Linked DNA regions of Homo sapiens. The protein of the gene in region 2 purifies or fractionates together with the protein of the main gene of each other region. This does not show direct contact. Each region holds a gene or a part of one and is shown on either strand. Other genes may lie near its edges.

What was found.
Region 1: the proteins of SYNGR1 (region 2) and ECSIT purify together in Homo sapiens (affinity purification with mass spectrometry; one large-scale study listed by BioGRID and IntAct). This does not show direct contact.
Region 3: the proteins of SYNGR1 (region 2) and MTMR4 purify together in Homo sapiens (affinity purification with mass spectrometry; one large-scale study listed by BioGRID and IntAct). This does not show direct contact.
Region 4: the proteins of SYNGR1 (region 2) and RER1 purify together in Homo sapiens (affinity purification with mass spectrometry; one large-scale study listed by BioGRID and IntAct). This does not show direct contact.
Region 5: the proteins of SYNGR1 (region 2) and PIGU purify together in Homo sapiens (affinity purification with mass spectrometry; one large-scale study listed by BioGRID and IntAct). This does not show direct contact.
Region 6: the proteins of SYNGR1 (region 2) and SPAG9 purify together in Homo sapiens (affinity purification with mass spectrometry; one large-scale study listed by BioGRID and IntAct). This does not show direct contact.
Region 7: the proteins of SYNGR1 (region 2) and ERGIC2 purify together in Homo sapiens (affinity purification with mass spectrometry; one large-scale study listed by BioGRID and IntAct). This does not show direct contact.

The regions. Positions count from the first base shown.
Region 1 is NC_000019.10:11,512,135-11,515,634, forward strand, and holds part of ECSIT (evolutionarily conserved signaling intermediate in Toll pathway, mitochondrial isoform 1 precursor), read right to left. Parts: intron 2,088-3,500; coding exon 1,670-2,087; intron 1,146-1,669; coding exon 922-1,145; intron 1-921.
Region 2 is NC_000022.11:39,383,533-39,386,075, reverse strand, and holds the end of SYNGR1 (synaptogyrin-1), read right to left. Parts: 3' UTR 501-2,543; downstream 1-500. UniProt on the Homo sapiens protein: May play a role in regulated exocytosis. Modulates the localization of synaptophysin/SYP into synaptic-like microvesicles and may therefore play a role in synaptic-like microvesicle formation and/or maturation.
Region 3 is NC_000017.11:58,497,639-58,501,138, forward strand, and holds part of MTMR4 (phosphatidylinositol-3,5-bisphosphate 3-phosphatase MTMR4), read right to left. Parts: intron 1-3,500. UniProt on the Homo sapiens protein: Lipid phosphatase that specifically dephosphorylates the D-3 position of phosphatidylinositol 3-phosphate and phosphatidylinositol 3,5-bisphosphate, generating phosphatidylinositol and phosphatidylinositol 5-phosphate.
Region 4 is NC_000001.11:2,398,341-2,401,840, reverse strand, and holds part of RER1 (protein RER1), read right to left. Parts: intron 2,427-3,500; coding exon 2,327-2,426; intron 985-2,326; coding exon 906-984; intron 1-905. UniProt on the Homo sapiens protein: Involved in the retrieval of endoplasmic reticulum membrane proteins from the early Golgi compartment.
Region 5 is NC_000020.11:34,667,093-34,670,592, forward strand, and holds part of PIGU (GPI-anchor transamidase component PIGU), read right to left. Parts: intron 1-3,500. UniProt on the Homo sapiens protein: Component of the glycosylphosphatidylinositol-anchor (GPI-anchor) transamidase (GPI-T) complex that catalyzes the formation of the linkage between a proprotein and a GPI-anchor and participates in GPI anchored protein biosynthesis.
Region 6 is NC_000017.11:50,988,369-50,991,868, forward strand, and holds part of SPAG9 (C-Jun-amino-terminal kinase-interacting protein 4), read right to left. Parts: intron 2,301-3,500; coding exon 2,082-2,300; intron 1,505-2,081; coding exon 1,309-1,504; intron 1-1,308. UniProt on the Homo sapiens protein: The JNK-interacting protein (JIP) group of scaffold proteins selectively mediates JNK signaling by aggregating specific components of the MAPK cascade to form a functional JNK signaling module.
Region 7 is NC_000012.12:29,374,673-29,378,172, forward strand, and holds part of ERGIC2 (endoplasmic reticulum-Golgi intermediate compartment protein 2), read right to left. Parts: intron 1-3,500. UniProt on the Homo sapiens protein: Possible role in transport between endoplasmic reticulum and Golgi.

The DNA.
Region 1 (3,500 bases), on a different chromosome or scaffold from region 2:
ACGAGTTTGAGACCAGCCTGGGCAACATGGTGGAACCCCATTTCTACAAGAAATACAAAAATTAGCCGGGCGTGGTGGTGTACGACTGTAGTCCCAGCTACTTGGGAGGCTGAGGTGAAAGGATGGCTTCAGCCTGGGAGGTGGAATTTGCCGTGAGCCAAGATAGTGCTACTGCGCTCCAGCCTGGGCAACAGAGCCAGACCTTGTCTCAAAAAAAATATGAAGAGGTCTGAGGGGCTTGTTTGCCCCTTATATTATGTGAGGACACAGCAAGGTGTCATCTTTGAAGCAGAGAGCAAACCCTCACCAGACCTAGATCTGGTGGCACCTTGATCTTGGACTTCCCAGCCTCTAGAACTGTGAGCAATAAATTTTTGTTGTTCATCAATGACCCAAGCTAAGAGATTTTGTTAGAGCAGCCTGAACGGACTGAAGCAGAGGTCACTCAAGCTGTGCTAGCAGTAAGGACCATGGGAACCTACCAGGGGACTCAGCCAGAGAATCAGAACTCAATTCACGGCCAGGCACAGTGCCTCATGCCTGTAATCCCAGCACTTTGGGAGGCCGAGGCAGGAGGATTGCTTGAGCCCAGGAGTTCAAGGCCAGCCTGGGCAATATAGTGAGACCCTGTCTCTGAAAAAAAAAAACAGTTTTTTTAATTAGCCAGGCATAGTGGTGTGTGACTGGAGTCCCAGCTACTCAGGAGGCTGAGGTGGAAAGATCGCTTGAGCCTGGGAGGCAGAGGCTGCAGTGAGCCGAGATAGTGCCACCACACTCCAGCCTGGGCAACAGAGCAAGACCCTGTCTCAAAAAAGAACTTGATTCACCACAATCACTAGAGTGAGAGAAGGGGAGCCCAGGGGAGGAATGGCGGGAGCCTGGCCTGGGGTGGCAGCTGACGCTGTAGACAAGGGCGGATACCTGGTAGATGGTGACCCTGGCACTAAGGTCAGGCTCCATGTGCCGCAGGCCAAACATGGCCAGCTCCACAGGGTCCTGGGGCAGGTCCCGGGGCACTGGGAAGGGGTTGACGTTCATGAATCGAGGGAACCACAGCTTCAGGCGCACCAACTTGAGCATGGGGTAGCTTTTGCGTCCAAAGATCTGAATCAGCAGGAACTCCGTCTCCTTGTTGGGCATCACACCTGTGCTGGGCAGATGCAGGCAGAACCTCAGAGATGGAGGGGGAGGAGGGAAGGGAAGAGGAGAAAAGAAAACAGTGAAGTGAGGGAATTGATCACAGACAGGGAGAAAAGAATCAGAGAGAATTAGAAAGAAAAAGGCTCATGCCTGTAATCCCAGCACATTGGGAGGCCAAGGGGAGAGGATCACTTGAGTCCAGGAGTTTGAGAGCAGCCTGGGCAACATAGTGAGACCCCATTTCTAAAAGAAAGAGAGAAAGAGAGGAAGGAAGGGAGGGAGAGAGAGGCAGGGAGGAGAGGAGAAGAGAGGAGAGTGGGGGGAGGAGAGGGAGGGAGGGGGGAGGGGAGGGGAGGTCAGAGGGAGGCAAGAAAGAGAGATGAGTGATGAAAAGAGGGATTCGGAGAGGGAGAAGAGCGAGAGAGACAGAGACGGAGCCATGGAGGAAGGAGGGGCTGAGACTCAGGAGAGGTGCTGCCAGCTATCAGTGTAGCCCACTCCCCACCCTGCGCCAGCCTCCTGGCCTCACCGTGGTTCTCCATCTGCTCCAGGACAGCAATCCCACACTCCTGCTGCCGAGGGTAGTGGACGAAGATGCGCTGGATGATGTTGCGAGGCCGGAAGACCTCCTTGGGGAAGATGTTGAGCAGCTGGTTGTACACAGCCAGGTCCCGCTCGACACCATACTCCCGCATCTTGCGCAGGGCCAGGTAGATGAAGTCAATGTGGCCCCGCTTACGCACGCTGTGCTCCGCAAATTTCTGCACCGTCTGCAGGAAGCTCGCCTTGTCCCGTTCCCCACCAGGCGCCTGCCCAAACAGGTCCTCAAAGGGCACCAGAGCCTTGGTGGGCCTCTGCCGGGGTTCCGGTGGGCTGGGAACCAGGGACTGTTCAGAGCTATGGGCAGCTGCGCTGCAGTGGAGGCCCCGAGGGAGCCGGCGAGGGACCTGGGGAGGGAGGAGAACTGCTGGAATCTGGCACCTCTCAGTGTCTATGGGGGGCCGCCAGGCTGGCTCTTTCCTCAGAGAGGTCCCAGTGGCCTCCCTGAGGACTCGGAGGTATGGAACTGTGGTTACAAACCCAAGATTCGAGGCCATTACAAAGTGCGATAAAACACAATGCTGGCACAGTAGGGAGGAAACAGGCACTGTTAGCCATGGCTACGGGGAGCTGGTAAAAACTGCCACGGAGGCAACTTGGTAATATTCACAGTGATGACACACACATGCCGGTTTTTTTTTGGGTTTTTTTTTTTGGTTTTTTTTTGAGACGGGGTCTGGCTCTGTGGCCTAGGCTGGAATGTAGTGGTGCTACTGTGGCTTACTGCAGCTTTCAACTCCTGGGCTCAAGCAATTCTCCTCCTCACCCTGTCCAGCAGCTGGAACTACCGGTGTACACCACCACACCTGGCTAATTTTTAAATTTTCAGCAGAGACGGGAGTCGCACTATTTTGCCCAGGTTGGTCTTGAACGCCTGGCTTCAAGTGATCATCCCGTCTCCACCTCCCAAAGTGTTGGGATTACAGACATGAGCCACTGTGCCTGGTGGCCCTTTTTGCTTGTAATTTTTTTTTTTTTTTTTTAGACAGAGTCTCATTCTGTCACCCATGCTGCAGCGCAGTGGCGTGACCTCAGCCCACTGCAACCTCTGCCTCCCATGTTCAAGCGATTCTCATGCCTCAGCCTCCCAAGTAAGCTGGACTACAGACGTGCTCCACCACGCCCTGCTAATTTTTGTATTTTTAGTAAAGATGGGGTTTCATCATGTTGGCCAGGCTGGTCTCAAACTCCAGGCCTCAAGTGATCCACCTGCCTCAGCCTCCCCAAGTCTTTTTTTTTTTTTTTTTGAGACAGAGTCTCGCTTTGTCACCCAGGCTGGAGTGCAGTGGCGCGATCTCGGCTCATTGCAAGCTCCACCTCCCGGGTTCACGCCATTCTCCTGCCTCAGCCTCCTGAGTAGCTGGGACTACAGGCGCCTGCCACCACGCCCAGCTAATTTTTTGGATTTTTAGTAGAGACGGGGTTTCACTGTGTTAGTCAGGATGGTCTCGATCTCCTGACCTCGTGATCCGCCCGCCTTGGCCTCCCAAGTGCTGGGATTACAGGCATGAGCCACCGCGCCCGGCGTAGCCACCTTAAGTCTTGAGATTACAGGCATGAGCCACTGTACCCAGCCCCTTCTTTCTTTTTCTTTTTTTCTTGAGACAGAGTTTCACTCGTCGCCCAGGCTGGAATGCAATGGTGTCATCTCAGCTCACTGCAACCTCTGCCTTGTGGGTTCAAGCGATTCTCCTGCCTCAGCCTCCCAAGTAGCTAGGATTACAGGCGCCTGCCACCATGCCCAGCTAATTTTTATGTTT
Region 2 (2,543 bases):
GCTTCAACTGTAATAATTTTCCTTTTTTTTTTTAGATGGATTTTTGCTCTTGATGCCAAGGCTGGAGTGCAATGGCACAATCTTGGCTCACTGCAACCTCTGCCTCCCCGGTTCAAGTGATTCTCCTGTCTCAGCCTCCCGAGTAGCTGGGATTACAGGCGTCTGCCACCACACCCGGCTAATTTTTTTTTTTTTTTGTATTTTTAGTAGAGACAGGTTTTCACCATGTCGGTCAGGCTGGTCTCGAACTCCTAACCTCAGGTGATCCACCCACCTTGGCCTCCCAAAGTGTTGGGATTACAGGCATGAGCCACTGCAGTCGGCCAATTTTACTTTTTAAAAAGATAATATATTCATAGGTTCATTGTGTAATGAAAAATTAACAAACAATAATAACCAAGTAAGACATGGCCTGTCTAAGGAGACAAACGGGATGGAGCATCCAAGCCAAACGCAGAATGAAGAACAAAGAAACACGGTGACACACTTGCAATCGCTGGTGGGTTCTGAGTCTTCACTTTATTACTATGTCACCAGAAGTCACCACCTTCACTTGGTTCACCACAGATGGATGGATGTCATAAAGGAGGGTGCCACGGGGCCACTGGATTCACTCGAGACTTAACCAGGTGGTGGGGGGGTCTAGAGTGGGGGCCCAGGATGGGGACCGCCCTTCACCGCACACACACGCACACACACACACAGATATATTTGTGGAGCCTTATATTATACATCTTATATATAGAAAATATATATATTTATACTATACACAGGCAGTAACGCTGCGGGAGGGGCCGGGGCACCGACAAGGGCTGTGCGCACCAGGACATGGGGAGTGTCAGGTCAAGTGCATCGCTGGGAGGCAGCCGGCCCAGTCCCTTCTCCCATAAACTCCTGGGAGGGGCATTCCCCCTTTCGTGCTCCTTAGAGAATCAAAGGGGTCTTGGGCCAAGGTTAGGGGTCTCCCAGGGCTAACAGGCAGGGTGTCTCAGTTACATGGGGAAACCTGGGATCCCCGAGGCTTTGAAGATCAAGAATCACCAGGGAAGGATGGAGTAGGGAACTAACGTCAGTCCCCTGGGAATTAGCCCCTCAACTGCGACACCCCCAGGTGGATAGGAGCCGTGCAGGCAGGACAGTCTGTGACTGCCCAGGATGAGCCAACTCAGAAGGCAGAAGACCTGACTCCTGAACCTCTCCCTCTGTGCTTGACCTTGGACAAGTCGCTGTCTCCCTACCCCAGACTCTGCCGACTCTAAGCGTCCTTGCGACTCTACACTTATGTGAAACCTTTTTTCCTGGGCCCTCTCTTGTGCTTGATGGGGAGGAGGGAGCCACCCTGCAGGGTCCAGCTGCAGGAGGGCCCTTCTCCAAGGAAAGCTTTGGGAGCAAGGGAGAAGTAGGGGAGGGCAGCTGGGAGGAAAAGGGATACCGGACAGAGTTGGGCCTGGGGTTCCCCAGGGGCTGTCCTCTGCCAACAGAAGGAGCGAGTTTCCCCATGAACCTTCCAGGGCAGAGTCAGGAGCCCTGGGTCCCATCCAAATCTCGCCCTCCATCTCTCACCCTCTCTCATCTCCATCCTGGGCAGGTCCCTGCCAGAGCCCAGCCTGATGGGGAAGATCATGCCTGGAAGGGCTTCTGGGCTGAACCCGGGAAGAGTGAGGGATTCTTCGTGAGATGACTCAGCACCCCCCATTCCTGGCAGGAGTCTTGACAGCTTTCCCTGCCTAGGGTGGCAGGCAGGGCCTGTCACAAACACCCAAGATGGAGTTAAGCTTACCTGGTACCCTGCCCTCCGGCTGAGGATCACCAGCAGCTGGCTGGCACCCGAGGAGAAACAGATGGGCAGTACCCTGAGGTCTCCTAGTGCCCATCAGCAGGAGAGGCTTTTGGTGGACAGTGGGTGAGGGTCAGAACATCTCACAGCCTCTTGTGGTGGGCACAGAACTTCACTCTGCCATAAACACTCCTGCCCTCACTCACGCCCTCACCTTTGGCCTGGTACAGGTTTCACTCTTCAGGCCAACAGATAACCTGCCCCCATGCTGGTCCCATGTGGGCCACCTGGCGGCGGGGGACTGTGGACAGAGCCCCTTCTCCGGATTGGAAAATGAAGTCAGCAACAACCAGCTGTCACACAGCTGGCTGGGGTCCTCTCCATCACTGCTGTCCTTTGGGAGGACTTGGACACACCTGAGTTTAGATCCGTGTTCCACTGCCAACTCGCCTATGCTTGCCGAGCCTCAGTTTCCCTTCTGTTAAATGGGGATAATGGTGCTACTTCTCTGCTTAGGACTTCCTCCTCTTTCCCTTAACTCTGGCCCAGCTTTGGGGCCATCGAAGCAGGGACCACCCATGCCCTTGGTATCTCCAGCACAGGGGCCGGGTAACTGCTGAGTGAGTAAGCAGGTGAGGGATCGCCTGCCTCTTAGGATTCTTAGATGGGGGATGGGGGGATGGTGGTGAAAACACCCAGCACTGGGCCCGTCCACCACCTGCTCTGCTCTGCTCCCTGAAGGACAGGCCAGTGGACACTGGGTGGA
Region 3 (3,500 bases), on a different chromosome or scaffold from region 2:
TGTCTTATTTGAATCCCCAGCGCCTAGCACAGTACCAGGGGCAAATGACTTGAGAAATGAATGAATGAGCTCAAAATACAACATGAGGTTTCCACTGCTAGGTGCCAATTGAATGTGTGATACACATCAGGCATCTTAGTGGATCTTCTTAGACATCCAGACAACCAGGGTCCACCCAAGACCTACTGAATAAGAATGGCCAAGAGTGGGGCCTAGGGATCTGTATTCTTTTAAGTGCCACAGCTGACTTCTTTCATTTTATTTTTTATTATGGAAACTTTCAAGCATACAAAAGAAGTAAAGAATATGCTGGGCACAGTGGCTCATGCCTATAATCTCAACACTTTGGGAGGTCAAGGCAGGCAGATCTCTCGAGGCCACAAGTCCAAGACCAGCCTGGCCAACATGGTGAAATCCCATCTCTACTAAAAATACAAAAACTAGCTGGGCATGGTGGTGCATGCCTGTAAACCCAGCTCCTACTTGGGAGGCTGAGGCATGAGAATCGCTTGAACCTGGGAGGCAAGAGGCAGAGGTTGCAGTGAGCCGAGATCGCACCACTATATTCCAGCCTGGGTGACAGAGCAAGACTCTGTCTCAAACAACAACAAAAAGAAGAATATAATTAACTTCCATGTGCTCTTCATCCAAATTCAAATAACAACATTCTGCCATCCTCCACAACTCATTCTATGTGTACCAAAGGTTAGTCAGCAATGTTGACAGAGATAATAATACCTGAGTTTACAACAAGGAGAGAGAGCTCATCCAGCTAGGAGGTCAAGGAAGGCTACAGAGAGAGGGTAGGATTTGAGATGGGTATAGAAGAATGTGTTTATGACTTTAATGGAAGAAGAAGAAGAAGGAGGAGGAGAAGGAGAAGGAGAAGCGGGGGAGGAGGGGGGAGGAGGGGGGAGGAGGGGGAGGAGGGGGAGAAGAAGGAGAAGAAGAAGGACATTTTTGATCTAGGGAAAGGTAGAATCAAAGGTAAGTCAGGTCAGTTGTTACAGAGACCATTTCCTTTAAAATCTTTATACCAATTATTTCTCGAAATCTACTCTCCATCTTGAGCTGCCTACAACACACCTCCTTCTTTGCTGTCAACTAATATTTCAATCCCAATTTCCCTGTATCTCCGCTTTCTCCCCAAACTGGCTGGTCTTCTCGACCTTTCAATGTCTATTAGTGGTACTAATATTCTCCTACTTTTTAAGCTCAGATACTTGGGACCCAAAGTACTTTTCACTTCTACTCTCCAACTTTCAATTCTGTAGCCTGCCAATGGTTCTCTACAGTGCTTCTGAATTTAATCCTTTCTCTTTGCCAGGGACTCTTCCCCTCATATCTGAACTACTACAGCAGTGCTGGCTGGTCTCTGTGCCTCCAGCTACCCTGTACTCACTGATTAGTTCTCCAAGGATCCCACTGTCAGCAGACCACAGTAACTTCCTACAATGACTTCCTATTGACAACTGAATCAAAATAAACTCTTCACTGTAATGTTTAAAGCCTTCAATGCCCTCAATGACCTGTCCTATATTTCCACTATTCCTTAAAATAGCCCCTTCTCAACCCCTGCCAGCCACAGAACTTCTTTTTTTTTTAAAAAAAAAAAAACTACCTCTCACCCAGGTGCAGTGGCTCACACCTATAATCCTAGCACTTTGGGAGGCCAAGGTGAGCGGATCACTTGAGGTCAGGAGTTCGAGACCAGCTTGGCCAACATGGCGAAACCCCGTCTCTACTAAAAATACAAAAATTAGCCAGGTGTAGTGGCACACACCTGTAATCCCAGTTACTCGGGAGGCTGAGGCAGAAGAATCACTTGAACCCGGTGGGCGGAGTGAGCTGAGAAGATCATGTGACTGCACTCCAGCTGGGCAATGGAGCGAGAAAACCCTACCTCTCATGTATCCACTTGCTTTGGACCCCTCTCCACTAACCTTGTTACTGAGCTCACAACTCCCTTTATTTCATTCATTTGTCCAGTTTTTTTTTTTTTTGAGACAGTCTCACTCTGTTGCCCGGGCTGGAGTGCAGTGGCGCGATCTCTGCTCACTGCAAACTCCGCCTTCCCAGGTTCATACCATTCTCCTGCCTCAGCCTCCAGAGTAGCTGGGACTACAGGCGCCTGCCACCACGCCCGGCTAATTTTTTTTTTTTTTGTATTTTTAGTAGAGACGGGGTTTCACCGTGTTAGCCAGGATGGTCTTGATCTCCTGACCTCATGATCCGCCCGCCTCGGCCTCCCAAAGTGCTGGGATTACAAGCATGAGCCACCACGCCCAGCCATTTGTCCAGTTTTAAGTAAATTTTTACTTTAGTAAATTTATTTAAATTTACTTATTACGTGCCAGGTTCTAAGCCAGATACACAGAACACAAAAAGACCCACAGTTCTTGTCTGGTCCTTCATGAAAATTTCCTGAGTAAAACAGCCACCAAGTGACCCTTTTAAAAAACACATCATTTCTCTAAAGCTTTGAACTACACACATTTGTTTTTTTGAGACAAGGTCTCGCTGTGTCACCCAGGCTGGAGTGCAATGGCATGATCACAGCTCACTGCAGCCTCAACCTGCTGGGAGCAAACAATCCTCCTACGTCAGCCCTCCAAGTAGCTGGGACCACAGGCGCACGCCACCATGCCTGGCTAATTTTTGCATTTTTTGTAGAGGTGGGGTTCTACCATGTTGCCCAGGTTGGTCTCAAACTCCTGGGCTCAAGCAATCTGCGCACCTTGGCCTCCCAAAGTGCTGGGATTACAGGCATGAGCCACTGCACCCAGCCTGAACTACACACATTCTTATCTGCTTAGATGTTGACTTAGAATTGTTCTCTAGTTGGCCGGGTCTGGTAATCCCAGCACTTTGGGAGGCCGAGGCGGGTAGATTACGAGGTCAAGAGATCGAGACCATCCTGGCCAACATGGTGAAACCCCGTCTCTACTAAAAATACAAAAAACTAGCCAGGTGTGGTGGTGGGCACCTGTAGTCCCAGATACTCGGGAGGCTGAGACAGAAGAATCACTTGAACCCGGGAGGCGGAGGTTGCAGTGAGCCAAGATTGCGCCACTGCACTCCAACCGGTGACAGAGCGAGATTCTGTCTCAAAAAAAAAAAAAAAAAAAAAAAAGAATTGCTCTCTCTAGTTGTTCTGTGTCTTATCTTACAGCTTAAAATTATCTTGAAAGTAGAACCAATATCTTCTATTTCTTTGCTGTAGCCCACAAAACCTAGTACAGTAATACGCAACTTGTAGGTATTAAAGAAACATTTGTTGAATTGATAAATCAGATACTAAGTTAATGAAATGATTATTAAATGGGTCACAGAGCTTATTAAAAATTTGATTAAAAGTTATGGCCCCTCTCCCAGGAAAAGTAAACCTATGAACCTGTAGCCAAATTCTGCATAGTTTGGGGAAGGAAAAAAAAAATCACTGAAATCCTGAAACCTATCACGGTCCCCTCACAATGACTTAGTTCAAAAGACCCTAAAAC
Region 4 (3,500 bases), on a different chromosome or scaffold from region 2:
TGGCATGGCCACCAGTGCTCCCTCCCGTCCCAGCACATGGCCAACAGATGCCACGGCCCTGGAGGCTCAGCTCTCCCTTCCTAGTCCAAGCTTCTGGTGGCTTCCAGGGCCCCTGATCTTTCTGTACCACACTCCATCTGCGGCTGCAAAGTCAAGGCGTGGAGCCCCACGAGCTCAGCAGGCTCCTTCAGTTTACTGATCTAACAGACTTGGGTTCCTCCTGTGCTCCCAGAGTGGGGTATGAGGGACAAGACAAACGGATGCACACGCTCCCGTCCCTCTGACGGCTGCACCACCCACCTCTGCCTACCCGTGCAGACACGGACACCTCGGCTCAAACCCCTCTCAAAAATGACTCCAGGAGAAGGCTAGTCCCTCTGCCAGCCAAAAGGAGCCACAAGGCTGGGGATGGGAGAGAGGAAGGAGGAAGGAGGGAGGAGGAGGGAGGAGGAGGGAGGAGGAGGGAGGAAGGAGGGAGGAGGAGGGAGGAAGGAGGGAGAAGGAGGGAGGAGGAGGCAGGAAGGAGGGAGGAGGCGGCAGGAAGGAGGGAGGAAGGAGGAGGGAGGAGGGAGGGTGGAGGAGGGAGGAAGGAGGGAGGAAGGAGGGAGGAAGGGAGGAGGAGGGAGGAGGAGGGAGGACAGAGGGCCTGCCCTCCCCAGGCCACAACCACAGAAGCCGGTGCGCACTCCATCCCAGACTCAACCTCCAGGGCACTGGTGCTGACTTGAAACCAAGAGAATGCGGCAAGGTAGTGAGTGGCCTTCTACAGAGAGCCCCTGCGATTCCCCGTGCCCAGCCCAGCACAGCAGTCATCTTTCAGGTGACTTGAACAAAAATCAGTGTAGTCTCAGTCTCAGCCACCCTTGAGCACAATTCTCTTCAAATACCGTGAAGAATTAGCTCACCAAAATTTAAACTCTGGGAGCCTTCGAATGAAGGGGCGGAATTCCTCGTTCTGTTTGGTGGGTAGCGAAGGACCGTCATCTGTAAGGCAGAGCAACCATCAGGGAGGGCACCTCTTTTCATTCCCATCACAGTTCTACCTTTTCCCCTCAAGGCTTTGGACTAGCAGGCCTCACAAATCTAAACCGAGATTCATGTCATTTAACCAGAGAAAACGAGAAAACGGGGGTCTGTGGTCAACTGACACATCCAATTCACTGCTTTCAGAAGGTGCTATCAGAATGTTTTTAGACTTCCACACGTTTTCAATGCACGAAGAATTCAACCACATATAAACATCCAGGAACACGTCAGCTGCACCACGTAAAGGCACAGAAGAAAACAAAGGCAAATTAACATAAAAAGCAAGCGGCAGAGAACAGGGCGGGGCCGAGGATGCGCTGACCGTGGAACCCGGGCGCCAGGCCTGTCCCACCAGCAGCTGTGCCAAGCCCACTCTCACCCCGCCTCCCCCACTGGGATGGGTGCCGCTCCCCATTTACAGATGGGAAAACTGAGGCCTACAGGAAAGGGGCTCTTTGTTATTTTCTAGTCTCCTCCAAACAGCAACAACAGAGAGGGGCTGTGTTCCCAGCAATCTTTTCATCACATATCCTACACAGAAGACTCACAGGCTTCTGGCCACACAGTGAGAGCATACCCTACTCCCTGACAGCAGGTTCCCCCAGAACGAGGAGGGTCCTGGCAGGGAGCTGCGTGTGGGTTTTCCCTCAATGGCCACCACGTCCTGGAATGCAGTTGTTTGTTCCTCGCCTGGGGCTGGCCAGTCAGGCATGAACTCAGGGCCCCTACCTGGCCCAGGCAGGCCCAGGAGCTGCGTAAGTCTTCCAATAGTGGAGCACGAAGCACCAGGAACACTTCAGCTCACAGCTCCTCAGAAACCAGAGAAGGCCGCCCAAAGCCTGACCCGACCCGATGCTGGCATTAGAGTCCCGGCGGTCTCTGTGCACCACAGTGAGCTGCCTGTGGAACCCTCTGGCTACGGGAAAAGGTAACCTCGTCATGGCTGCCTCCGCTGATTCTGAGAGGGACCACTGACTGGGGTGGGACGGGGGCTGGAGTCGGACTGTCCACCTCAGACCCCTACTGTCTGTGGTGCCATGTGACCTCGAACACGTTACCTAACCCTGTATGCCTCAGTTTCCTCATCTGCAAAGTGGGAAAACAGAATGAACACCCACTTCGTGGCTGTCAGGAGGGTTTGAAGAGTCATTCTACAAACATATCCTGATCACCCAACATTACAAGTACATTTCAACCCCAAGAGAAGAGTCTCGGGTGTTTCCAGAGAACACTGGGCAATCCCATCAGAAAAGAAAGGCCCAACCTGCCCACACAGCCCAGTGCACAGCCGCTACCCTACCTGAGTCTTCCATTAAGGAAGGATCCACTTTGGGAGAAAGAAAAGCTATGAAAAGATTTAGATGGTAGATCCCCAAGGCATAGGTCACAATGTACCAACCCTGAAAGAGAAGGAAAGAGAGTCAGTGGTGCACTCTGACCGTCCATCAGCCTGAGCCAGTTCACGTTTGCACTCCGGTTCACTCTCAACTTTGTTAACTGATCTAACTTTGTTTTAACACAAAACTTACTCATAGCAAGGACAAGGAAATACAGTGAAATCCCATGGTAACAATTTATCTCAAATTATACTCTGTGGGAACAGAGACAAAGCGGACAAGCAAGGGCCCAAATGAGCAAAGCTCTTCAAGGGTCCAGTTAGACACATGTGATCCCTGAAGCCACAGACGCCCCACAAGGAGCGCAGCAGAAAAGGAGGCTTTTCTCAAGAAGCACATGCTCAAGCTACACCACAGGCTCGGGTGGCCCGGGCACCTGAGCGATGCTGGCCCAGAGCCCCACCCAGGAGCAGCTTCATCAGAAACAGAAGACAGACTCTCAACTGTGACTGGAGGCGTGCTGGCTGATGTTCCTCCAACAGACAATTCACATTGCCAAAAACACTCTGCCAGGAGGGTTAAACCTTTGCCCAGAAGAAATCCACAACTGGGAAATCCAGAAAAGTGTGCTTATGCCAAGCCTTCCTCAAGAGATGAAAAGTGGGGAGAATTTTGGCAAGATGCCTGAGTGCAGCACACTTATTTGCAACTAATTCATTTTTTAAAATGATTAAGCATATCCCGTTAAAAGCCAGAACCGCATTCTCAATTTCAAAAGCCTTAAATTTCTGTCGGGTGTGGTGGCTCACGCCTGCAATCCCAGCACTTTGGGAGGCCAAGGCGGGTGGATCACCTGAGGTCAGGAGTTCAAGACCAGCCTGGCCAACATGGTGAAACCTCGTCTCTACTAAAAATACAAAAATTAGCCAGGCATGGTGGCACATGCCTGTGATCCCAGCTGCTCGGGAAGCTGAAGTAAGAGAATCACTTGAACCCAGGAGGTGGAGGTTGCAGTGAGCCAAGATCAGGCCACTGCACTCCAGCCTGGGCGACAGAGTGAGACCCCATCTCAAAACAATAAATAAAAATATAAATGCTTTAACTTTCTTATACAAACAAGAAGTCTTTCTGCCTAAA
Region 5 (3,500 bases), on a different chromosome or scaffold from region 2:
TGGCCTCCCAAAGTGCTAAGATTACAGGCATGAGCCACTATGCCTGGCCAATAATTCTTAGTTACCTTGGTATACTTTTCCTATGGGTGATAATAAAAGCATATCATCCTGTATAAGACAAATATTATTTTTCAGTTTCCCGTATCAATAAGGACAAAAGCTTGTTCAAAAGCAGTAGTGTCCCTATACTTCTAGCTGAGGGCCTAAGAAGCAGCATCACTCCAGCTGCAATGAACACACCTAGCATTCAGAACTTTGTTTCTAAATAACATTCTCTAATAAAAGGAGCCAGGGCCCTTGAAGAAGTGGTCAATTCCAGGGCTGAACTAAGCAAGATAAACCTGGATCATCTTATAGTTCTAGAATGTAATAAAGTGCTTTTAAAAAAAAAAAGTGAGATAGAGGTATGGCAAAAGGACAAAGGGGTCAAGATGAAAGCGGTCCCAATGGCCAAAACTAGAATAATCCAAACAACAGAATGAATATAGTATACAGAGTCCAGAGTATAAAATATCCAAATCTATACTGACATAAATAGTTAAATAAATGCAAAGAAATGACAACTCTTCCTTACAGAAGAATTTTAATTATTAAATAAAAATGAATGAGAGAAACAGAAAAGTCACCATTGAAACACCTGAGTAATGACTGTTACAGGCAAGATTAACCTATGAATGCAAAAATTAGTAGGCAAAAATTTAAAAACAGGATATTTGCAGAGCTCCAAAGAATAGCCCCTAAAATGCTGATTAATTACAAAGGGAAACAGTCACTTTATGGTGGAGAAATCTGGCAGACACTACATTAACCAAGGGATTATGGCTGACATCACCAGTATTAGGGCATTTCAATATGCACCCCTGATCCAATGCACTGAGAGGACCATATCATCTCAGGGGTATTCTTCCCCAAAATCCATTACCTCCGTCAAACCACAAGAAAACATTAGACAAAACCAAATTGAGGGACATTCTACAAAATACCTGACCAGAGCTCTTCAAAGTGTCAAGGTCATAAAAGATGAGGAAATGCTAAGGAACTATCACAGATAAACGACTAAGGAGATATAACAACTAAACGCAATATGTGGCCAGGCGCGGTGGCTCATGCCTGTAATCACAGCATTTTGGGAGGTCGAGGCAGGTGGATCACCTGAGGTCAGGAATTCGATACCAGCCTGGCCAGCATGGTGAAACCCCGTATCCACTAAAAATACAAAGATTAGCTGGCATGGTGGCAGGGACCTATAATCCCAGCTACTCGGGAGGCTAAGGCAGGAGAATCTCCTGAATCTGGGAGGTGGAGGTTGCAGTGAGCCGAGATCTCGCCACTGCACTCCAGCCTGGGTGACAGAGCGAGACTCCGTCTCAAAAAAAAAAAAAAAAAAAAAAGGGGGGGGCGGGCGTGCTGGCTCACACCCGTAATCCCAGCACTTTGGAGGCTGAAGTGGGCAAATCATGAGGTCAGGAGATCGAAACCATCCTGGCTAACATGGTGAAATCCCATCTCTACTAAAAATATAAGAAATTAGCCAGGCGAGGTGGCGGGCACCTGTAGTCCCAGCTACTCGGGAGGCTGAGGCAGGAGAATGGCATGAAACCGGAAGGCGGAGCTTGCAGTGAACCAAGATCGTGTCACTGCACTCCAGCCTGGGTGACAGAGCGAGACTCTGACTCAAAAAAATAAATAAATAAATAAATAAAATAAAAATAAAAATGCAATATGGAATATTAGATCATAGAACAGAAAAAAAATTAGTGAAAAAATGGTAAAACTTTTTTTTTTTTTTTTTTTTTTTTTTTTTTTTTACACAGGGTCTTGCTCTGGTGCCAGGCTACATACAGTGCAGTGGCATGATCATAGCTCAATGCAGCTTCCTCATCCCAGGCTCAAGCAATCCTCCCACTTCAGCTTCCCAAGTAGCTGGGACCACAGGTGTGCGCCACCAAACCAGCTAACTCTTTTTTAATTTTATGTAGAGAGGGAGTCTCCCTATGTTGCCCAGACTGGTCATAAATTCCAGAGCTCAAGGCATCCCCTCGCCTCAGCCTCCCAAAGTGCTGAGATTATAGGCATAGCCACTGTGCCCAGCAAAAATGGTAAAATCTTAACAACTATGGTTTAGTTAATAGTATTGTACCAATGCTATCATCTTAGTTTTGATCACTGTACTATGACTATGTAGGATATTAACATTGGGGGAAGCTGGGTGAAGGGTATACAGATCTCTCTGCAATATTTTTGCAAGTATTCTGTAAGTTTAAAATGATTTCAAGTAAAAAGCTAAAAAACAGGCTGGTGCAGTGACTCATGCCTGTAATCCCAGCACTTTGGGAGGCAGAGGCAGGTAGATCACTTGAGGTCAGGAATTCAAGACCAGCCTGACCAACATGGTGAAACCCTATCTCTACCAAAAATACAAAAATTAGCTGGGTGTGGTGGCACACACCTGTAATCCCAGCTACTCAGGAGGCTGAGGCAAGAGAATTGCTTGAACCCAGGAGGTGGAGGTTGCAGTAGGCCAAGATCACACCACTGCACTCCAGCCTGGGCAACAGAGTGAGACTCTGGCTGAAAAAAAAAAAAAAAAGTAAAAAACAAAAAACAGTGGTATCTAGTCTCTGGATCCAGCTGCCTATTTGCAGGAAATAGAGATGATAGAGGAACATGTTAAATTGTATCATGATATATAATCAGGAAAATTCAAACTATGGGAGATCTGTCTGGATTCTTCAATAGATAAACACTATGGAAGAGAAAGGGAACCTGGGACCCTAAAAATTAAGAGAGATTGAAAACACAAACAAAAACTTTTTTCTTAGGGGCAAGACTAAGCCTAACGGCAAATGAACTAGGGATGTTCATTTGAGTAATAAAACTTTTAAAAATACAAAGATGTCATTACATATAAAAGTCAGGATAATAGTTACTTATGAAAAGAGTGAGGGGATTGTGACGAAGGGGGGCTTCTGAAGTGAGTGGCAAAGTTCTGATTCTTGACTTGGATGACAGTTACAAAAATGTTCACCTTACAATAATTCACCATAGAATACATTGTTATGTGTGTCTTACAAATTCTGTTTAATTTTGTAATAACGGCTTTTTTTTTTTTTTTGAGACAAAGTCTTGCTCTATTGCCCAGGCTGGAGTGCAGTGGCATGATCTCAGCTCACTGCAACCTCCACCTCCTGAGTTCAAGTGATTCTCCTGCCTCAGCCTCCTGAGTAGCTGGGACTACAGGCTCCTGCCACCACACCCAGCTAATTTTTGTATTTTTAGTAGAGACAAGGTTTCACCATGTTGCCTAGGCCGGTCTCGAACTCAAGCTCAAGCAATCTACCCACCTCCCACCTTAGCCTCCCAAAGTGCTGGGATTACAGGTGTGAGCCACCTCGCCTGGCCATAAAGGCTTTTTTAAGTAGTGGTATCAGAAGTGCTCTTCCTGACCCTGATTCTTTTATTTTTGAGACAAGGTCTTGTTCTGTCGCCCAGGCTGGAGT
Region 6 (3,500 bases), on a different chromosome or scaffold from region 2:
GGGTTATTAATTAATCTTTCTTACTTTATACACTAAGAATATTAAACTTTAAAAAGGATCTAGTTTAAAGAGACTCTCATCTAGAGGGGATCTAGAAAAGGCAGGAAAGAAAATAAAATAATTCACTAAATGGGCCTAGATTAACCAACCCTTTAACGGAGGAGCCTAAAACAAACAGTTTTCTTTGGTTTGTTTGTTTTCTGAGACAGAGTCTTGTTCTGTTTCCCAGGCGGCAGTGCAGTGGTGATATCATGGCCCACTGTAGCCTCCAGCTCCCAGGGCTCAAGCAATCCTCCCACCTCAGCCTCCTGAGTAGCTGGGACCATAGGTGCACGCTACCACGCCCAGCGAATCATTAAGTTTTTTGTAGAGATGAGGGTCTCACTATGTTGCTCAGGTTGGTCTTGAACTCCTGGACTCAAGCAATCCTCCTGCTCAGACTCCCAAAGTGCTGGGATTATAGGCATGAGCCACTGGAACTATCTGAGTTGTTTTTTAATAAAATATTTGCATGAAAACTAAATTCAAAAAGGTCATCCACACCCATGTGGGAAACTTGTACAATGGCAGATTTAAACAATGGCCAATTTTGCTGATAACTGGAGTGAAAATTAGAGTAGGGGTGGGATTAAAATGACAAAGAATTACTTATAGAATGGAAGACAGTAAGTACAAAAAAAAAGAAAAAAAAACAGATCAGAGGAGAAAATGAACAGAAAGATTTTGACTAATATATAGTCACACACCTGGTAAAACCATTTTGGAAAATGATGGACAGAATATATGGTGGTGGTTCCACAAGATTATACTACTATATTTCTACAGTACCTTGTGCATGTTTACATACACAAATACTTACCGTTATGTTCCAATTATCTACAGTATTCAGTACAGTAACATGCTGTACAGGTTTCTAGCCTAGGAGCAATGGGCTATACCATATGGCCTAGGTGTGTGATAAGCCATACCATCTAGATTTGTGTAAATGCACTCTATGATGTTCACACAATGATGAAATCACCTAATGACACATTTCTCAGAACATATCCCCATTGTTGACTGATGCATGATTATACTTTTATAGATAAGATTTTTTTTTTAAATTGGAAGGTGTACAGAAGAAATGGGGGGGAATATCCAGCGAGAATGATGGAGCGGGAATACATGAAATTATCACAAGAATAGGTATCTTTTAATCCACCACAGTGACACTAATTAGTGGAAATCTTTTGACTGTTTGAGATTATTTTGGTTCCTTTTATTTGTGCACTTCACCCAGTTGCCTAAGTTGATGACCCATTATTATACCTCGACTGATACACTGGGGAGAGGTCTTCTGGGATCTGAACTCCCAAAGGATCTGTAAAGACATGCTCTGTGTAGACGCCAGTTTGGGAGATGTCCACTGTGTCTTCAGCTGACCCCGCATTCCCTTCTGTAGCTTCAGTTGCTTCTTCTGCTGTTGGAACATTTTCATCAACCTCACTATTTTCTGCTTCCATTTCTACAAAGTAAATAAAACACTATTCCAAGTCTGGGCTTTTCTCCTCCAATTATTTCCCCACACAAACCCCTGTTATAGAATTCCATTCCATCTACCCACTCCTTCACACTGTACCATGAAATTAAGAATTCTTCATTCCATTTAACAGTCATTACAGCATTTTTTTTTTTTTTGAGACAGAGTCTTGCTCTGTTGCCCAGGCTGGAGTGCGGCGGCGTGATCTTGGCTCACTGCAAGCTCCACCTCCCAGGTTCACGCCATTCTCCTGCCTCAGCCTCCCGAGTAGCTGGGACTACAGGCACCCGCCACCACGCCCGGTTAATTTTTTGTACTTTTTAGTACAGACAGGGTTTCACTGTGTTAGCCAGGATGGTCTTGATCTCCTGACCTCGTGATCCACCCGCCTTGGCCTCCCAGAGTGCTGGGATTACAGGCGTGAGCCACCACGCCCGGCCTACAGTATCTTCTTTCAAGTTCTTTCAACCTTGTTACTTAAGATCTAAATTAAGTCCATAATGAGGCATCTGAGTGTAGCCTTAGACTCTATACAGATGGCAGGTAAAGAGAATGGATATACCTGGTGGTTTATCCATCACTGGAGAAGCACCATTTGTACTAGGGGAAGTGGCAGCTCCCGTCACACCTTCTGCAGAACAACCAACCACTGTGATGCCTCCTAACAGGCTGTCTGTCTCTGCTGAGCTGTTGCTTGTCATACTTCCACATAAAGATGCTTTGTCTACCTGACCAGATTCTGAAAGATCTTCTCCTGCAGGGTAGTCTGTTTCTCGTGCACCTGAAAAATAAATCTTCTTGTAACAGCAAAGTAAACTTCTATAAATAACATTTTTTTTACTAAAACAATTACAGGTTTGAAATGAGAGTTATGCAGGTGAGATGTACAGGTAGTTGAATACAGGTAGCATTAAATTTACATAAACAAATCTTCACAATATGGGAAGGTAACTTAAAAAATTAAGAAAATACTTCTATTAACACAAGTGCAAATAAACATAAAAATGTCAGAAAATAAACTTTTTTTTTTTTTTTTTTGAGACAGAGTCTTACTCTGTCGCCCAGGCTGGAGTACAGTGGCATGATTCAGCTCACTGCAACCTCCGCCTCCTTGGCTTAAGTGATTCTCCTGCCTCAGCCTCCTGAGTAGCTGGGACTACCGGTGTGAGCCACCACGCCTGGCTAATTTTTGTATTTTTGGTAGAGACAGGGTTTCGGTATGTTGGTCAGGCTGGTCTTGAACTCCTGGCCTCAAGGGATCCACCAACCTCAGACAAGTCCTAGGATTACAGGTGCGAGCCACCACGCCTAGCCAGCTTCTGTTCTTAGTGAGCTCCTCAGCAGCCACAGGTTAAAAACAATCTATTATATCTGACAACATCAGCCAAAAAAAAATTCTTTTAAATCATCAAGACTACTGCTACTACTTGAAGTATAAGCTTCTATCCATTACTGTTAAAAATTAAATGCCCCAAGTATATAGGTTGATTAAGATATTAGTAAAACATTAAAAACTAAGCATTTATAATATAAAAATATTTACAATATAAAAATAAATCTCATTTTTTAATTTAGAAAATTGTTTTATTTATATCACACTAAAAACTTTTATTGCAGTAAAAATAATATATATATAAACAAAATTTGCCACTTTAACCATTTAAAAGTGTACAATTCAGTGGCACTAATATTTACAATATTGGCATTAATATTTATAACATTGTGTAGCCATCACCATTATTTTTTTTTTTTGGCGACAGAGTTTCACTCTTGTTGCCCAGGCTGGTGTGCAATGGTACAGTCTCGGCTCACTGCAACCTCTGCCTCCCAGGTTCAAGCAATTCTCCTGCCTCAGCCTCCCAAGTAGCTGCGATTACAAGCGCCTGCCACTGCACCTGGCTAATTTTTGTATTTTTAGTAGAAACGGGGTTTTACCATGTTGGCCAGGCTGGTCTCGAACTCCTGACCTCAGGTGATCCGC
Region 7 (3,500 bases), on a different chromosome or scaffold from region 2:
GAAACATGGGTTATATCTTTAGACTTAAGCTATTTCTAAATTTCTCTTAAATCTGCCTGTCTTCTCTTCTTCAGGCCTACTGAGAAATTCCTTATGTCCAAGTATGTTCCTAGTCCCAACTGCCACAATCTATCACTACATTGCTTCAACAACCTCTAATCTTCAACCTTCCAATTCTCTCTCTATACTGTAATAATAAATTATCTTTTTAATACATAAATCTGATATTTCTCTTCAAATCTTTGTAAAACTTCCCTTCCCACTACACTTAAGAGCTTGGATTCTATCCTAACATGTTTTACAAAGCCCTTCAAAAACCAGGTCCTGCTAACCTCTCTTCAAACCCAATCACTCACAGTCTACGTTCCAACCATATTAAATCACTTTCAATTCCTTAAATATCCTATTCTCTTTGCCAGAAATATTTTTTCTTCCCCCTACCGCATCTCTACATTTGACTAACTCCTACTTACTCTTCAAGGTCCAGTCTACTCATCTCTACCTTGAGCAAGCAGGGGGAACAAAAAAACTTTCCATGGCCTTCAAAGTCTATCTGCTTCTAGAACGTTGTACCTTTATCACACTATTTCTAATTGCCTCTTTTTCTGTTTCCTCCACCGGATTGTTAGAGCAGGAACCATGTCTAACTTGATCTTTGTATCTCCAATGCCTAGCGAACAGGTATTCAATATTTATTGAGAAAAGGAAGGAAGGAAATTTTCCCAGAAACACCACAGTAGCACATCTTTCAAATCACAGCAGTATGTCATACTTAGGTAAGTAAATATATAAAAATAAGATCCACAAGAAGGATTTTCCTGTTGTCTACTGTCCCAGGACCTAGAACAGTGGCCATCACATAGTCAGTATAGCACTGTTAAACAAATGAATAAAACAGTGAATTACATTTCTAAAAGTTTATATAAATGTTATATTTGTATAATGAGCTTTCTAAATGCTCTTTTAATTTATATATAAGCATAAAGATACGGCAAGCAGTTAGTTTTACAAATCTCCTAATAATACATACAACCTATTCAACACTCCTCCCTTGAAAGTCTAGCTGGAATATATCATGTGGCTCCCTACCCATCTCTAGCTTCCTCCATCCCTGTTTTCCAGGGGATATCACTCTAGAATGGAGCACCTCGCCCCTCAGCTACTCCACCAGTCCCATTCCTGAAAGCTCAGCACTAACCTACCTCCAAGAAATTCATTCCATTTTGCATACTTGCCAACCTACTGTAAAAGTCACTGTCTGGCATAAACAAGGTATCCAATAACTTCTAGCTTTTCTAAAAGAAATTGCTGTCTGCTCTCTTTATAAAACCTGACTTTCTATTGGCAGCAGTTCCATTCCAATCCTTAGTCATTTCTGAGACTCACAGGTTACAGAAGTATCATGTTTTACCATATTTCTCAACCATCTCTCATGTTTTGTGCTATGTATTATTTGAAGCTCTTTAAACATTAATTCATTTAATCTTGTAAATGACTCTATGAAGCAGCAGGTACTATTTTTAATCCTACTTTTTGATGAGGAAATGAGGCACAGAACTGTCAAATAATTTTCCCAGGCTACATAGCAGGTGGTAGAACTTGAAACTATGCTCCAAACCACAGTACACACTGATTCTCACTTCCGTACTTGTTGCTATATTCCACTAACATCTGAATATATTCATAATTTGCTTAATGACTTCAGCACCCAGATCATTCAATATGCTTCTCCCCCACTCCATTATCATCCTTTGGAATTCATGCTCTGATGGCATTTATCCTATAGCATTCATTCACAATAAAACCTTTTTACCATGTAAGCTTAACAGCGCTTCTCCTCCTGTGACCTCCATCTTAATTCTATGGAAAGCCACCCATGAGCAAGGTCAACCCTTAAAACTGTTCCACCTCTAAAATCCAAAACACATTTACCTCCCCAAGTAGGAACTACCCTTCAAGCTCTTTCCTAAGATAAATCTGCTCTTCATTTTCACTGGTGTTCTCAAATCCTTTAAATCCTACCAGATACCCAATTTCATTGCTCCATTCCCACTCTATTTGCCTCTCTACTCAGTGTGGTAAGCCATTTTCAAAAATGTGTTTGGAAATACCTCAGATCATCAATGCTTGCCAGAAGTCATTGCTATTCTGTGACAAAATTTTCTAGTCATGGACAACGTAGAAAAGAACTTTTAAAGCTAAATTTATTCCATTTTAAAATGTGTCCTTTATTCTGAGATTATTTTATTCCATTTTGTCAAAACAGCCTTTCCTTTATGAAATGATAAAAACAGATATAACAGAGGTTGTTTTGTTTTTGGATGTCTTTATTCAGCAAAATTAAAAAATGTAATTCTAGGTCAGTTTTTATACCCAGCCCTTTTCCCTGTCCACACGGCCCGCCCCTCTCAAATAGATATACATTTTCTTGTATTGGTCCACAAAATCTAGTTAGAAGCCGTTACACAAGATTCCTTTGCCCACTGGTTGGTGCTGCTATTCATACCTTGACAATCTCCAGTACTATGTCTGTTTTCTTTGATGTCTCTCCTTAAACTGTCTTGAATATTAAAAAACAAAACAAACATAAATAAACTCCAGAAAGTCACTGATAACAGCTGGAGCTAAGACAAGACAGTTGTCCCTCAGTATCCATGGGGTATTGGTTCCAGGACCTCCCTTGGATATCAAAATTCTCAGATGCTCAAGTCACTGACATAAAATGGTGTAGTTTTTGCATATAACCTATGCACATCCTCTTGTATACTTTAAATGATCTTTAGACTACTTATAAAACCTAATATAATGTAAATGCTATGTAAATAGTTGTACTGTTTAGGAAATAATGAAAAGAAAGAAGTCTGTAAGTATTCAGTACAGACACAATACTTGTTCAGTAGGCATGCAATTTTTCCTTCTTGAATATTTTCAATCTGCAACTGGTTGAGTCCACAGATGCAGAATCCACAGATATGGAGGGGTGACTGTATTTTGAAAAACTTCCTAAGACATAAGAGACTCCCTTTCAGGTTGGAACACAGACATTATCAACACTCACTGTAAGTAAAGTCACACAGCCTATATTTCATCATTGTATCCATCTGAATATAATGAGACTATTAAATGCTTTACCAAAATTAAAATACAGAATTCATGAACTTTTTATAGTCTGCTCAGTTAAGTTTAATTCTCCAAAGAAAAATGAAGACAAAAGTTATTTCCTGCTACCCAAGTTTTGAGTTAACTTCTATTTTTAATACATATTTGGCAATATGAGAAAAATTTAATTGGTTAATACATATGGCCAAGTTGCAGTCTGAACTGTGTCAACTCACAATTTGATACGTTGAACAAGATATGTTGAAGTCTCAACCTCTGGTATCTATGAATGGGCCTTATTTGGAAATATTTGAGTCTTTCAGATATAACTAATTAAGATGAGATCATACTGGATCAGGGTGCTCCAAAATCTGAGACTGGTGTCCTTTTAAGAAGGCCAT